4 linked regions of the Homo sapiens genome follow. The protein of the gene in region 4 purifies or fractionates together with the protein of the main gene of each other region. This does not show direct contact. Each region holds a gene or a part of one and is shown on either strand. Other genes may lie near its edges.

Region 1 (2,322 bases), on a different chromosome or scaffold from region 4:
TCCTTACCCATTAAACTTTCCAGCTCCTACTGGATAACTGGAAGGATTGGAGAGATTCAGGAATGAAATCTCTAGCTACCAAGCTCAAGTCTGGGCCATCCTTCCTTCTCGGGCCTTGTGACAGTTCATGTGAGTTTGGATTAAAGCAGCCAGGAACCCAGGCAACTATTGTCTTCAGTCTAATTTTTTTCTTCTTGCTTCTTCTTTACAGGCAAAGAAGAGGAAAAGAGCAGAGCGCTTTGGGATTGCCTGATGAAAAGTTCCTGATACTTTCTGTTCTCCAGTGTTTTCCATTTCTCTCCTTCTTCTTGGTCACATATATGCCTAAATGCACAGTCATGTGCCTACGTCCTGCCTCGCAATGAGGGAGCATGTACCCCAGGTACATCCATGAACTGCGGCAGCAGTTTGACTTATTGCTGTTTCAGCTTTAAGGTTGTTGTGTTTTTGTTTTTGATTATGTTGCTTGTTAATAAAAAAAAATAGAAAAGAGAACAATGTGTTTTATTAGGTGCTCCTTTGATTTATTGGAGCTAGATTAGACCAGATAAGGGGAGCTTCAGGGGCAAATATTATAGAGAATTGGCCATAATACCTTTATCCCTTAGAAGAGAAGACAAGGAAAAGGACTGAGTTTACCCTTTAAGCCTGTTTATTCCCTTCTGTCATACTCACAAGCATTTTTTATCCTCTGTGAAGAGGTTAAGTTACCCACCCACCAAGTCTTTGCTCCAGCAGCTTGTAGTGACCCACTGAAATAAAACAGAACATGGGAGGTTTTAGGTGTTGCAAAGGATATAAATACAAGGGCAGTGATTAGTAGCCTTCTGTTATTAGCTAATAATGCAGACTTTTTCTTGGATAAAATGGAGTCCAGGGTCCCACATTAAAGGAAAAGGGCCCTGATTTCAAGGGTGATGTGATACGATACTATGTTGGTCAGTCAGTTCAGGAAGGGAGATGGGCTGGATATCCCTCAGAGACAGAAGAAATTTTGTATGCAGAATCAAAGCATGACAGAGGATGTCAGAGCTGTTACGCATTGTTAGCTAAATCATTGGGAACATAAGCAGTGGAACTGGAGGCTTCAAGTTCATGTAGATCTGAAACCTGCTTAATCTTTTTGGATATGTTATTGCAGAATTTCTCCTCTTAATCTTTATATAAGCTCGGTTTTTGTTTGAGCTATTTTTGGTAATAAGACTTAGGAGCCTGACACCTTACCTGAAGACTTTGGTACTATGATCAGGTCCCATGTTGCTGTGGTGTAATCCTTTATCCTTATTTCTACTAAAACCTGCCTGGTTTTGTGCTTAATGAAATGGTAATAGTTTGATCACCTTTCTAATGTCAAGATATCTCTTTATTTCTCCAAAGTCTCTGGTTGGTGAGGAAAGCAGGGACCTAAAGTTTAGATAATTTAGAAAAATTGTGCCTTGGAGAGCAGATCCAAAAACTGCTGCCCATTTGTTGTGAAGTTTGCCCCATTCTGAGACTTTGGAGAAGTGAACAAAAGGGAATGCTGGTTAAATTTTTGACACCTCTTCAACCAAATAAACCTTAAAATTGGAATGACCTTCCCTTTTCCCTCTTTTCTGTCTGCCTTCCTTTTCTTTACCTCAGGCTCTGATCTTGGGGCTAGCTTTTCCTCTCTCTACTCTGCCTTCATCTGAAAACAGAATAGATCTGATTTGTAACTTGAGAGATTATAGATTCACTAATGGTTTCTTCCTGAATATGGTTTTAAAAAGAGAAAAATACATGAGGGAATAGAGCAGATGCTGATTATGAAGTGGAACAGTGGATCTTTTGGAAGTTTTCTTCGTCTCTTTATCCTCTATAACCTTCCAGAAAGATATTCAGCCTTACTTGCCAGGATTCTCTTCTTGAAGCCTAATTATTCTCCTCACTCATCTTACTTCCCCTAGATCTTTGAACAGTGTTTTCCAATTTGTGAGGATTTTTTTTTTTTTCTTATTAACCTCTTTCATCCCATTTCAGCAGCTGTTCCTATGTTGGTCAGAAGTCTCTAACCTCCAAGCCAGATGAAGTCCTCCCCTTCCTATCTCATTATAGTCATTCTCCACATACTCTTTGAGCATGAATAGTTCAGGATGCCTTTTTCCCAATTCAGTTTTAAAATAGTAATTCCGTTTGGAGATGGAACAGACATTGAGGCTTGTAATTGTTTACCTGAGATCTTAGTACCCTTCCTTCCTCTCCCCGTTTCCCTACTATAGTTGATCCAGCATCCAGATGTGGTTAACTGATTCCAATTCCTGAAGCTGTGACATTCTCTGCATACCTGGAAGCTCTTAATGA
Region 2 (3,500 bases), on a different chromosome or scaffold from region 4:
TGGGATTACAGCAGGATTTCTCTTTGCATTTATGAATATTCAAAAAGAATTATTTAGAAACATTTCTCTGAAAAAACTATGTTTTGAAGAACTTATGTGGGGGAATAAAATTATGCCTTGTGAGCTTTGAGAAGTGAACTTCAGATAATGGCATTTGTGTTTGTTTGCCTGGTTCTTTTTAGAGACATGCAATTGTTAACAGCATAAGACAAAAAGTGAATAATTTGGCATAGTCAATTGTTATTCCTGTCTTCAGATCTGACTGCACAATTCATCTCAGCTTTCTATTTCTTTAAGATCCAAATTAATAGGCATTATGTTTACTACCCCTTCTATCCTACCTCTTATTTGGTTATCTCTTAACTAGATCTCTTCCTTCTGAGACACTGTGCATATCAATGCCAGGTCAGTTTTCCAAATATTGCTTTTATTACATCCTTTTATCTGCCTAAAAATCTATTGCTTCCTTTGCTCATGAGATAAAGTTCATATTTCTTAAGCTTACACTCAAGATGCTCAATAGTCTGACCTGGATCTGCCCAATTTGAATCCTTCAAAAATTACCTCATACTCCCTTGAGGATACCTTGTTCTTTACTCTATCTTTGCTTTTGATGACACCTCTTTGGAATGCCCTGTCCACTCTTTGTCTGTCCAAATCCAAATCCTACTTATCTTTTAAACCCCAATATATTTCCTACTCTTCCATGGTTTTTTCTCAACTTTTCAGCTGTCTGTGTATTCTTACTTCCTCAAAATAACTCATTGACAATTGCTTTGTGACAGTTCCTTGTATTAGTCAGTACTCTTTCTATTGCAAGTGACACAAACCTACCCTAAAAAATGCTTAAGAAAAAATACTTGATTCTCTTTATTGTGATGGCTTTATTCTCAGGCAAGTTCTCACTCTTGCTTATGGAACAAAGATAACCATAAGCAGCTAGCTCACCTGGAGAAAAGAGCATGGCCACATATTAGTCCCTCCAAATTACTCTGGTTGGCCTACCGTGGATCACATGTCTGTTCCTGAACCTGAACCAGTCACTGTGACCACAGAAGGATGGAATACTCTATTTAACTGACAATCCTGGGCCTTACCCCCATTGTGAAAGTGGTGATGTCCTTTGATTCACAGGTTAATAGTCCTGCCAGCATCACATGGGAGTTGGAGAAGAACAATTCTCCAACTCCCATGTTGGAGAAGGATTGCAGGACAGATTAAAACAAAACATATATATTATGTTAGTATTTTAAGAGTCATTTTAATCTTGTATTGTTATTTTACTTTTAAAGGTTTTATGCTTTTAATCTTGTATTGTTATTTTACTTTTAAAGGTCTTATGCTTTTAATCTTATATTGTTATTTTATTTTTAAAGGTCTTATAATTAGTTTGTAAAATTATGTTGGAAACACTTTCATAGTGGGATTTTATACCTTTCTGTGTAGCCTGTGGTACCTTGATCCAGACTCACTGACATATTTTTGTTGCTGTCGATAGGTTTGCAAAGTATTTTAAGAGTAAAAAAATGGCAAACACAATAATGTAGAGCTGATATTTGGTTGGCCATAGTGCTTCAGAAGTTTTATTTAAGACCTAGAATCTCTGTTGCTTATGTAATTGCATTTGCAATATTGGCCTATAGTGTGAATTTTAAAATGAAATATCTTGCCTGCTGTTGTTAAATCTATTTTGCCAAATGTTTTACAAGAAAATTCTTTTATCTTATAGATGGATTTAAATCTGAAAGAACAGGTTGTCATTTTAGATGAAGCTCATAACATCGAGGACTGTGCTCGGGAATCAGCAAGTTACAGTGTAACAGAAGTTCAGCTTCGGTTTGCTCGGGATGAACTAGATAGTATGGTCAACAATAATATAAGGAAGAAAGATCATGAACCCCTACGAGCTGTGTGCTGTAGCCTCATTAAGTAAGAAGATTTGTCTATTAGTGTATTTGTGCTGCCTTTATATGAAAAATATGTTTGATTATGCCAGAGTATTTAAAGTTAGTAAACTTTGGTTAACTAGGCTTCTTGGGAAATGAATTGTTCCTTGCCAGTTAAGCTTTAAAAACAAGGCTAGTCCAACCTTTTGTCTTGTTCACAAGAATATAATGAACATAAGTGATTTTTAAAAATGAATAATTGTGAATCTTATTCCTAATTTGGCAGGATAACATAATAGCCCCGAAGGATGTGTCTAGGATATTGAACCAGAAACTAAACGTGCTTTTAATTAATATATTTTAAAATTCTGGATCATGGCTTTAATTTATTGCTTTATTCTCCAATTTAAATAGGATTCTAGTTTCATGGGTTTTAATTAATCAAGATTTCAGTACTCTAAAATAATATATTTAGTACTAGCTTTATGACAATTTACACTAATTTTTCTTTTATTAGACATTAAGTTGTTGATCTAGAATCTTGTTACCATAGAAAAAAACTTCCCAACTCTGAATCCCATTTCATTTATTGTAGCATTTTTCTGTTTCCTTCACATTTACACTTTAAAAAAATTTGAATGTTACACAGTCACATGGTTTGAAGACAAAATGTATACAAATTTGTATAGTAAAAACCTCCTTCCAGTTCCATCCCTGATCTGTTTAATGTCTGTGTTCTCCTAAACAAGTTTATCATTCAATGCATATTACTCATTTATGAACCAATATTAGATATATTTTCTTGTCCCTCACTATTTTCCAAATGATGGCATAGTATACATACATTTTTCTGCAACTTGCTTTTTTCAATTCCCAGTGTATTTTGGAGACCTTTCCATGTTAAGACCTAGAAAGCTTTCTCAGTTTAAAAAAAAAATAGATATCTAGAATTCCATTAGATAGATATGCAATAGTTTATTTAACCAGCCTCTGATTAATAGAGGAGGTTGTTTCTAGTTTTTTGCTCTTAAACTGCTATAATGAATAACTTTGAACATACATAATTTCATTTGTATGCAAATATATCTATAGGAATCTTTTTAGAAGTGGAATTGTTGGGTGAAAGCATAGACATATTTGTAATTTCAATAGATATAGCTAACATTTACACAATAGGTGGATGACAGGGGGGCTAATGTATGCTTCTACCAGCAATGTATAAGAGTATGGAAATTGTTTTCTTCTAGCCTGCTAGGTGAAAAGTGGTATCCCAATGTAGTTTTAATATTCATTTTCCTTAATATGCATGAAATTAAGCATCTTTAAAGGCCATTTATATTTCCTTTTGTGTCAACTGCCTGTTGACATCTCTGTCCTTTTTTTGTTCTTATTGTGGTTCTTTTTCTTAATGATTTATAGAACCCCATTCATATATTAGGGAATTAAAATCTTTGCCTGCAATAAGAGTTGTAAATACTTTCCACCCCATTTTGCCATTTGTGTCTTTTCTGGTGGTGTTTTGCCATGCAGATTTTTGTGGTTTTTATTTTACAGCATAACTTGTTGAAAGAGTTGTCTGTAGTTGCTAATTCTATTTTCTCACTTGACATTCTT
Region 3 (3,500 bases), on a different chromosome or scaffold from region 4:
GTTTCTGTCAGATTCAGACCAAGTCTGTGCACACCAAAATTAGGTGTAGTGTGGGTGGGAGACACTTCAGAGACTCAGGCATGATGCTGAGGCCTCTTGAGCCCCTCTCATAGGATTCTACGAAATTTTCCTTCTTTTTAAAAAAATAGTAATTTAGATACTGAATAAAAACAAAAGTAGTATAGACTTGCTGTTAAAAAATTCAAAGAATCATATATAGCCAGGTTGCCAACCTTCTCTGCTTCTGTTTCTTGAAGTAACCAAGGCTGACACTCAGGTGTGTTTCCTTCCACTATTCTCTATGCTAACACAGGTGTGTATATGTGCACTTATGAGAGCTTTAAAAGTAAAGAATGGGGTTATACTGTACACATTTCTCTGTGTTACGCAGTGGTTAAGAATGTGGGCTCAGCTTTTCACTGATGAGTTGTATGACCTTGGACAAGCTAGTTAACCCCTCTGCATCTATGTCTTCTTAGTTATATAATGGTCAAAATATTAGTGTCTACCTCATAAAATTTTTTTTTTTGAGGAGTAAATAACTTAATTGTCCAGGCGCAGTGGCTCACACCTGTAGTCCTAGCAATTAGGGAGGGTGAGGTGGGCGGATTGCTTGAGGCCGGGAGTTTGAGACCAGCCTGGGCAACATGGTGAAACCATCTCTAAAAAAAAATATGAAAATTAGCCAGGAGTGGTGGTGCGTGCCTGTAATCCCGTTACTTGAGCCCGGGTGTGTGTGTGGGGGGGGATGTTGAGGCTGCAGTGAGCTGCGATTGCACCACTGTACTCCAGCCTGGGTGACAGAATGAGATCCTGTCACACACACACACACACACACACACACACACACGCACAATAACTTAATATACGTAAAATATTTAGACCAATACCAGGCACATTGTAAACACTTTTTTTAGTGTTAACTTTTATTATTAAGAGACTTCTCTTTAAATCCTTACATTCAGAATGAATTCCTGCTTTTTAACAGCTGATAACATTCCACAGTGTAGATATATGTTATGTCAAAGTCAAACAAAAATATAGATTCGAATCTCTATGTAAAACATTTTACTTGGGAAAATATATAAAAACTACATTGCAATTCAAGGCATACACACAGATGGGATGGTCTTTGGTGTGTCTGAAGAACAAATAAAATGTTGGGGGTTTTATTAGAAAGAGAAATGTTACATATTGTTATGAAAGAAAACTCATTGGCACTAGCAAAGTTCTGGGAGCTAGCAAGCTGTAATTGGTGAGTGATGGCAATAGGTAAAACTAGCCTTAGAGGCAAGGCAGGTCATTTCGGCAGCTGGCTTGTGATAGAATTCTTGGGTAGGCATTTGTGTCCTGAGTGCTTTTCTTTTCCTCTCCCTGGTTCTCGGCTCTAATTTACTTGGGTAATAACAGATAATGCCAATTCATATAATCAATTTTCACATATAATTTACTCAGAACAAATTGTGATGCCAGTTTTGATGTCTTCATATTGTGATATGTATGCTATTGTTTAAGAATGAAGTGGAGCCAGCTGCAGTGGCTTGGGCCTGTACTCCTAGAACTTTGGGAGGCTGAGATGGGAGGATCGCTTGAGTCCAGGAGTTCGAGACCAGCTTGAGCAACATAGCAAGAGCCCTGTCTCCACAAAATTAAAAAACCATTAGCTAGGTATGCTGGCGTGCGCCTGTAGTTCCAGCTACTTGGGAGGCTGAGGCAGAAGGATTACTTGAGCCTGGGAGTTTGAAGCTGCAGTGAGCTATGATCCTGCCACTGCACTCCAGCCTGGGTGATAGAGCAAGACCCTGTGTCTCCGTGTCAAAAAAAAAAAAAAAAAAAAAAAAAAAAAAAAAAAGAATGAAGTGGAGGGGATGGGAATCATTGTTCTTTTTTTTTTTTTTGAAACAGAGTTTTGCTCTTGTTGCCCAGGCTGGAGTGCAGTGGCACTGTCTCGGCTCACTGCAACCTCCACCTCCTGGGTTCAAGAGATTCTCCTGCCTCAGCCTCCCAAGTAGCTGGGATTACAGGCACCCGCCACCACACCTGGCTAATTTTCATATTTTTAGTAGAGATGGGGTTTCACCATGTTGCCCAGGCTGGTTTAGAACTCCTGACCTCAGGTGATCTGCCCACTTTGGCCTCCCAAAGTGCTAAGATTACAGACATGAGCCATTGCATCCAACTGGGAATCATTGTTCTAAAAAGCTGTTGTTGGAGAATTATGAAATTCTGCCAAAGGTTGCATTTACAAGTATTTTCTTTATGCTGTTTAAAAGATTATTGGCTTTTCTGACTAGTGCCTTAAAGCTGGAGTTGGATATATCAAAGTGCTGTTGCATGATTATTTATGATTTCATTTTACTGCAGCGTAAATTTTTATAATGTCAGCATTTAAGAAATATTATTCCTGTCAACTTTACCAAGCCCTGAGTGGCTTCTTATATATTACTTTTCAGCATATTTGCTAATTTCCTCAAGCAGTGCTAGATATTCACTTTGGAATTTGCCTTTTGATGTCTCTTCTGTGATGAGCAGCCACCAAATAGCCCCCACCACATTCTAATTCTTTATTGCAAAAAGTAAAATATGGAGCACTGCATCTGAAAACCACTGTGCGAGACAATCTCATTTTTACTTTCTTTCTGCTTAAATATGCAATAAATATGTCTTCTGATAAATACAGTTCTAAAATAAAATAGTTTTGTGTAACATCTTGGAGTAAAAAAGAGAAAGAAATTTTTTTTTTTTTTAGACAGAATCTTGCTTTGTTGCCCAGGCTGGAGTGCAGTGGCACCACCTCGGCTCACTGCAACCTCTGCCTCCCGGGTCAAGCTATTCTCCTGCCTCAGCCTGCCAAGTAGCTGGGATTACGGCACCTGCCATCATGCCCGGCTAATTTTTTGTGTTTTTAGTAGAGACGGAGTTTCACCATGTTGGCCAGGCTGGTCTCGAACTCCTGACCTCGTGATCTGCCCACCTCGGCCCACCAAAGCACTGGGATTACAGGCATGAGCCGCCGCGTCCCACCAAGAAAAATTTAAATGTACGCAATGATTTTGGTGTGCTGCCGTGTCCCTGGGCACTACCTTCCTAGGCATTGCCAACCTTGTGGCTCCAGCCACAAACATTGTGACTCTGCCAGAGGGCTTGCTCTGGCAATGGAGCCTACTTGGCAGCAAATCAGCAGGCAGTAAGTGTCAGGGAGTAAATGCCCTTTGGATGACAATAATGAGTGGAAGTGGGAAGCTAAATTCTCCAGGTCCTTCACCCCTCATGTGAGATAACTCTAAGAAGTTTTATATTATCTCCCAGGGTTCCCCAGTGGGATCATTTGCAGTTACCCATGGCAGTAACTTGTTTGATAATGTACCTTTTATAGCTTTGGTTCTCATTCTGCTAAGGTGCCACCTGGGATTACCTCCCAAATTAGCCACTTTGTTTCAATTTTTTTTTTTTTTTTTTTTTTTTTTGAGATAGAGTCTCTCTCTGTCACCCAGGCTGGA
Region 4 (3,500 bases):
TGAGAATTTGATGAAAATTCTGGACCCCTCCCCAGGACAGACACCCAACATTTTGCATGCAACTTCACGGCCTCTTACTTCCATACCCGAGATCAACATAAACTCTTGAAGGAAGTGCTGTCCAACAGAAATACAACATGAGGCCGGGCACAGTGGCTCATACCTGTAATCCCAGCACTTTGGGAGGCTGAAGTGAGAGGATTGCTTGAGCCCAGGAGTTCAAGACCAGCCTGGGCAACATGGTAAGACTCCATCTCTACAAAAAAATTAAAAATTAAGCAGGTGTGGTGGCACACACCTGTAGTCCCAGCTACTTGAGAGGCTGAGTGGAGGACTGCTTGTGCCTGGGGGGGCGTTGAGGCTGCAGTGAGCTGCATGCCAGCCTGGGCAACACAGCGAGACCCTGTCAAAAAAAAAAAGGCTATGTGCAGTGGCTCATGCCTGTAATCCCAGCACTTTGGGAGGCCGAGATGGGTGGATCACCTGAGGTCAGGAGTTCGAGACCAGCCTGGCCAACATGGCGAAACAATGTCTCTACTAAAAATACAAAAATTAGCCAAGAGTGGTGGCGCATGCCTGTAATCCCAGCTCCTGAGGAGGCTGAGGCAGGAGAATCGCTTGAACCCGGGAGGTGGAGGTTGCAGTGACCCGAGATTGCACCACTGCACTCCAGCCTGGGTGACAGAGTGAGACTCTTTCTCAAAAATAAATAAATAATAAAATAAAATAAAATTTAAATTAAAAATAAAATTAAAAACTTGTGGCCCTAAAAGTTTACCTCCTAAATGTAGTTTTAATCATTTACCTCTCCCCTTTTTCCATCCACTTCTACCTTTTCAGTTTCCATAGATTTAAAATAGCCATCTAGGTATGAGGATGGATTCTGGGAAAGGAGAAATGGGAGAGGCTTTGAGACTCTGAAAGAGAGAGCCGCTGTGGAAAGCTACTAAGCCCTAGGCAGGAGATTCCAGCAAAGGAGTCTTTGTTTGGGATCTGACCTACTGCATTTCTGAAGGTTTTCATTCAGTGTTGGCCCGAAAGCTGATATTTAGAGAATAAGCCCCAGCCATCAAAATTCCCATCTCGTTTTCTTATGAGACTCCAGCTGTGCCTGGGGACTGAAGCGTATTAGGTTTATAGTTCAGGGTCTCCTGGATTAAATAAAAGGAAGAGGACTAACTGTTTGCGGCACACAGATTTGAATGGGACATAGCTGTTTTTCCAGCCATAATAGAAATAAAGTCACTACTCATCTTTTCTATAGTATACACAATTTACAAAATGCTTTACTTATGTTTTATTACATAATAGCCTGAGGTCAATATTATTTTGATCTTCCTTTTGCATGCAATGACCCACACTCAGAGAGGTTAGGTAATTGGAGCTGGCTTTGAACCCAAGGAGTTGGATTGGCCTACATAATACTCCCCCAGTGAACACCCTGCCCAGGCTACCAACCCATGCCCATTCACAGGCACTTACCTGTAATTCTCCCCAGCCATCCATCGTACATCTCTCCAACAAACCCAGATATGTGGGCTCCTAGACTTACTCCGATCATGTAAATGTCATCAAGAGAAGCTCCTTCTGCCTGGAATTTCAAGAGGTCCATCATTGTAAATTGTAAGGGGCCAAGGAATTAACATTTGTAGAAATTTCCTGGCTGTTGACTTTGGAGAAGTAATTCTAAGCACCTTACATCTATTATCTCATTTAAAAGTCACAACATCCATGCAAAGTAAATACTATTCTTTTGATTATGCAGATGAGGAAACTGAGGCCCTAAGCTGAAGTCATCTGCCCCAGATCAGGCAGCTGGGGAGAGAGCAGAGCAGGATTCAAAATAGTCTGTCTGCTGGGCCCAGTGGCCCACGCTTGTAATCCCAGCCCCGTGGGAGGCCGAGGCGGGCAGATCACCTGAGGTCGGGAGTTCGAGGCCAGCCTGACCAACATGGAGAAACCCCGTCTTTACTAAAAATACAAAATTAGCCGGGCGCAGTGGCTCACGCCTGTAATCCCAGCACTTTGGAAGGCCAAGGCAGGTGGATCACGAGGTCAGGAGATCAAGACCATCCTGGCCAACATGGTGAAACCCCGTCTCTACTAAAAATACAAAAATTAGCTGGGCATGGTGGCGTGTACCTGTAGTCCCAGCTACTCGGGGGGCTGAGGCAAGAGAATCGCTTGAACCCGGTAGGCAAAGGTTGCGGTGAGCTGAAATCACACCACTGCACTCCAGCCTGGTGACAGAACGAGATTCCGTCTCAAAAAAAAAAAAAGAAGTTGAGGAAGCTCTAGGCATTTAAACCAAGAAATCCTAGACAGAACCTCTCCTACCTGTAAGACACCTTTATTGTGAGCTAGAAAAAAATGCCCCTTCCTCAAGACACTTTGTCATCATCTGGTGGAAATTTATCATAATAAATATATAAATCTATAATGTCACAATGACAAGGGTGCTCCCTCAGATGGGTGCCCTGTGCAGTGCACAGCCTAACAAACATACCTATGGACATTTTGCACAGCCCCTCATCCCACCTTCCCTGGGGCTTATTCACATTTGCAAAATGTTGCAATATAGGCCTCCTGCTCACTGTAGCTATCTCTTGGCTTTAAGCCCTCAGATAATGGGCCAGTTTCAACTTAGCTCTGAATCATCTAAGAGAATTCTCTTACCAACATCTGGTCAATAAATTCCTTCAAGACCATGGCTACTTTTCTGGTCTTACTAGAGGCATGGGTATATATTAAAGTTGTAGCTCCTCGATTCCAATCAACAACAACTACGTTCATGTCTTCAACAGAGAGCAAACCCTTTACTAAGTCATCCATCCAAACAGGAGGGGAGCCTGTTGGCCTGAATCCATGGACAATGAAGGTGGTTTTCTTGGTCACATTCAAGTTCCCAAAAGCTGAGGAGTTGATGGTTTGTGCGCAGGTCAGGTTTTTCCTTGTGTAGAGCATCAGCCTCACATTTAGTCCCGTACCAACCACTGCACTGTGAAAGCTCAGCCTGGTGAATGAAGGACATGTTTCTTCTGCGTCTGAAAATAAAAATTAGATGGCATCACGACAGGTCTTTCCTTAGCTGGGCATCAAGCAAGAGTGCTGTTCTATATTTGTAGGAGTTCTTCTTATGTTCCTGATAGGACCTGGCTAAGGGCTGGATCCAGTTGAATGAAGTTGCAAAATCATATATACATACTTTGAGACAGGGTTTCACTCTCACCCAAGCTGGAGTGCAGTGGCGCAATATCAGCTCACTATAACTTCCACCTCCCAGGCTCAAGCAATTCTCCCTCCTCAGCCTCCTTGAGTAGCTGGGACTACAGGTGCATGCCATCATGCCCGCTAATTTGTGTATTTTTTGATAGAGATGGGTTTTCACCATGTTGGCCAGGCTGATCTCAAACTCTTTTGACCTCAAGTGATCCACTCACCTTGGCCTCCCAAAGTGGTAGGATTACAGGCCTGAGCCCACCACACCTGGCTGCCAAATC

What was found. Proteins that work in one complex are often made in the same cells at the same time.
Region 1: the proteins of LIPH (region 4) and GDF11 purify together in Homo sapiens (affinity purification with mass spectrometry; 3 studies listed by BioGRID and IntAct, with this or other methods). This does not show direct contact.
Region 2: the proteins of LIPH (region 4) and BRIP1 purify together in Homo sapiens (affinity purification with mass spectrometry; 3 studies listed by BioGRID and IntAct, with this or other methods). This does not show direct contact.
Region 3: the proteins of LIPH (region 4) and DNAJC12 purify together in Homo sapiens (affinity purification with mass spectrometry; 3 studies listed by BioGRID and IntAct, with this or other methods). This does not show direct contact.

The regions. Positions count from the first base shown.
Region 1 is NC_000012.12:55,755,443-55,757,764, reverse strand, and holds the end of GDF11 (growth/differentiation factor 11 preproprotein), read right to left. Parts: 3' UTR 501-2,322; downstream 1-500. Other genes in the region: SARNP (SAP domain-containing ribonucleoprotein), read left to right, coding at 212-253. UniProt on the Homo sapiens protein: Secreted signal that acts globally to regulate anterior/posterior axial patterning during development. May play critical roles in patterning both mesodermal and neural tissues. It is required for proper vertebral patterning and orofacial development.
Region 2 is NC_000017.11:61,797,529-61,801,028, reverse strand, and holds part of BRIP1 (Fanconi anemia group J protein), read left to right. Parts: intron 1-1,729; coding exon 1,730-1,929; intron 1,930-3,500. UniProt on the Homo sapiens protein: DNA-dependent ATPase and 5'-3' DNA helicase required for the maintenance of chromosomal stability. Acts late in the Fanconi anemia pathway, after FANCD2 ubiquitination.
Region 3 is NC_000010.11:67,800,189-67,803,688, reverse strand, and holds part of DNAJC12 (dnaJ homolog subfamily C member 12), read left to right. Parts: intron 1-3,500. UniProt on the Homo sapiens protein: Probable co-chaperone that participates in the proper folding of biopterin-dependent aromatic amino acid hydroxylases, which include phenylalanine-4-hydroxylase (PAH), tyrosine 3-monooxygenase (TH) and peripheral and neuronal tryptophan hydroxylases (TPH1 and TPH2).
Region 4 is NC_000003.12:185,532,089-185,535,588, forward strand, and holds part of LIPH (lipase member H isoform 1 precursor), read right to left. Parts: intron 3,045-3,500; coding exon 2,677-3,044; intron 1,592-2,676; coding exon 1,483-1,591; intron 1-1,482.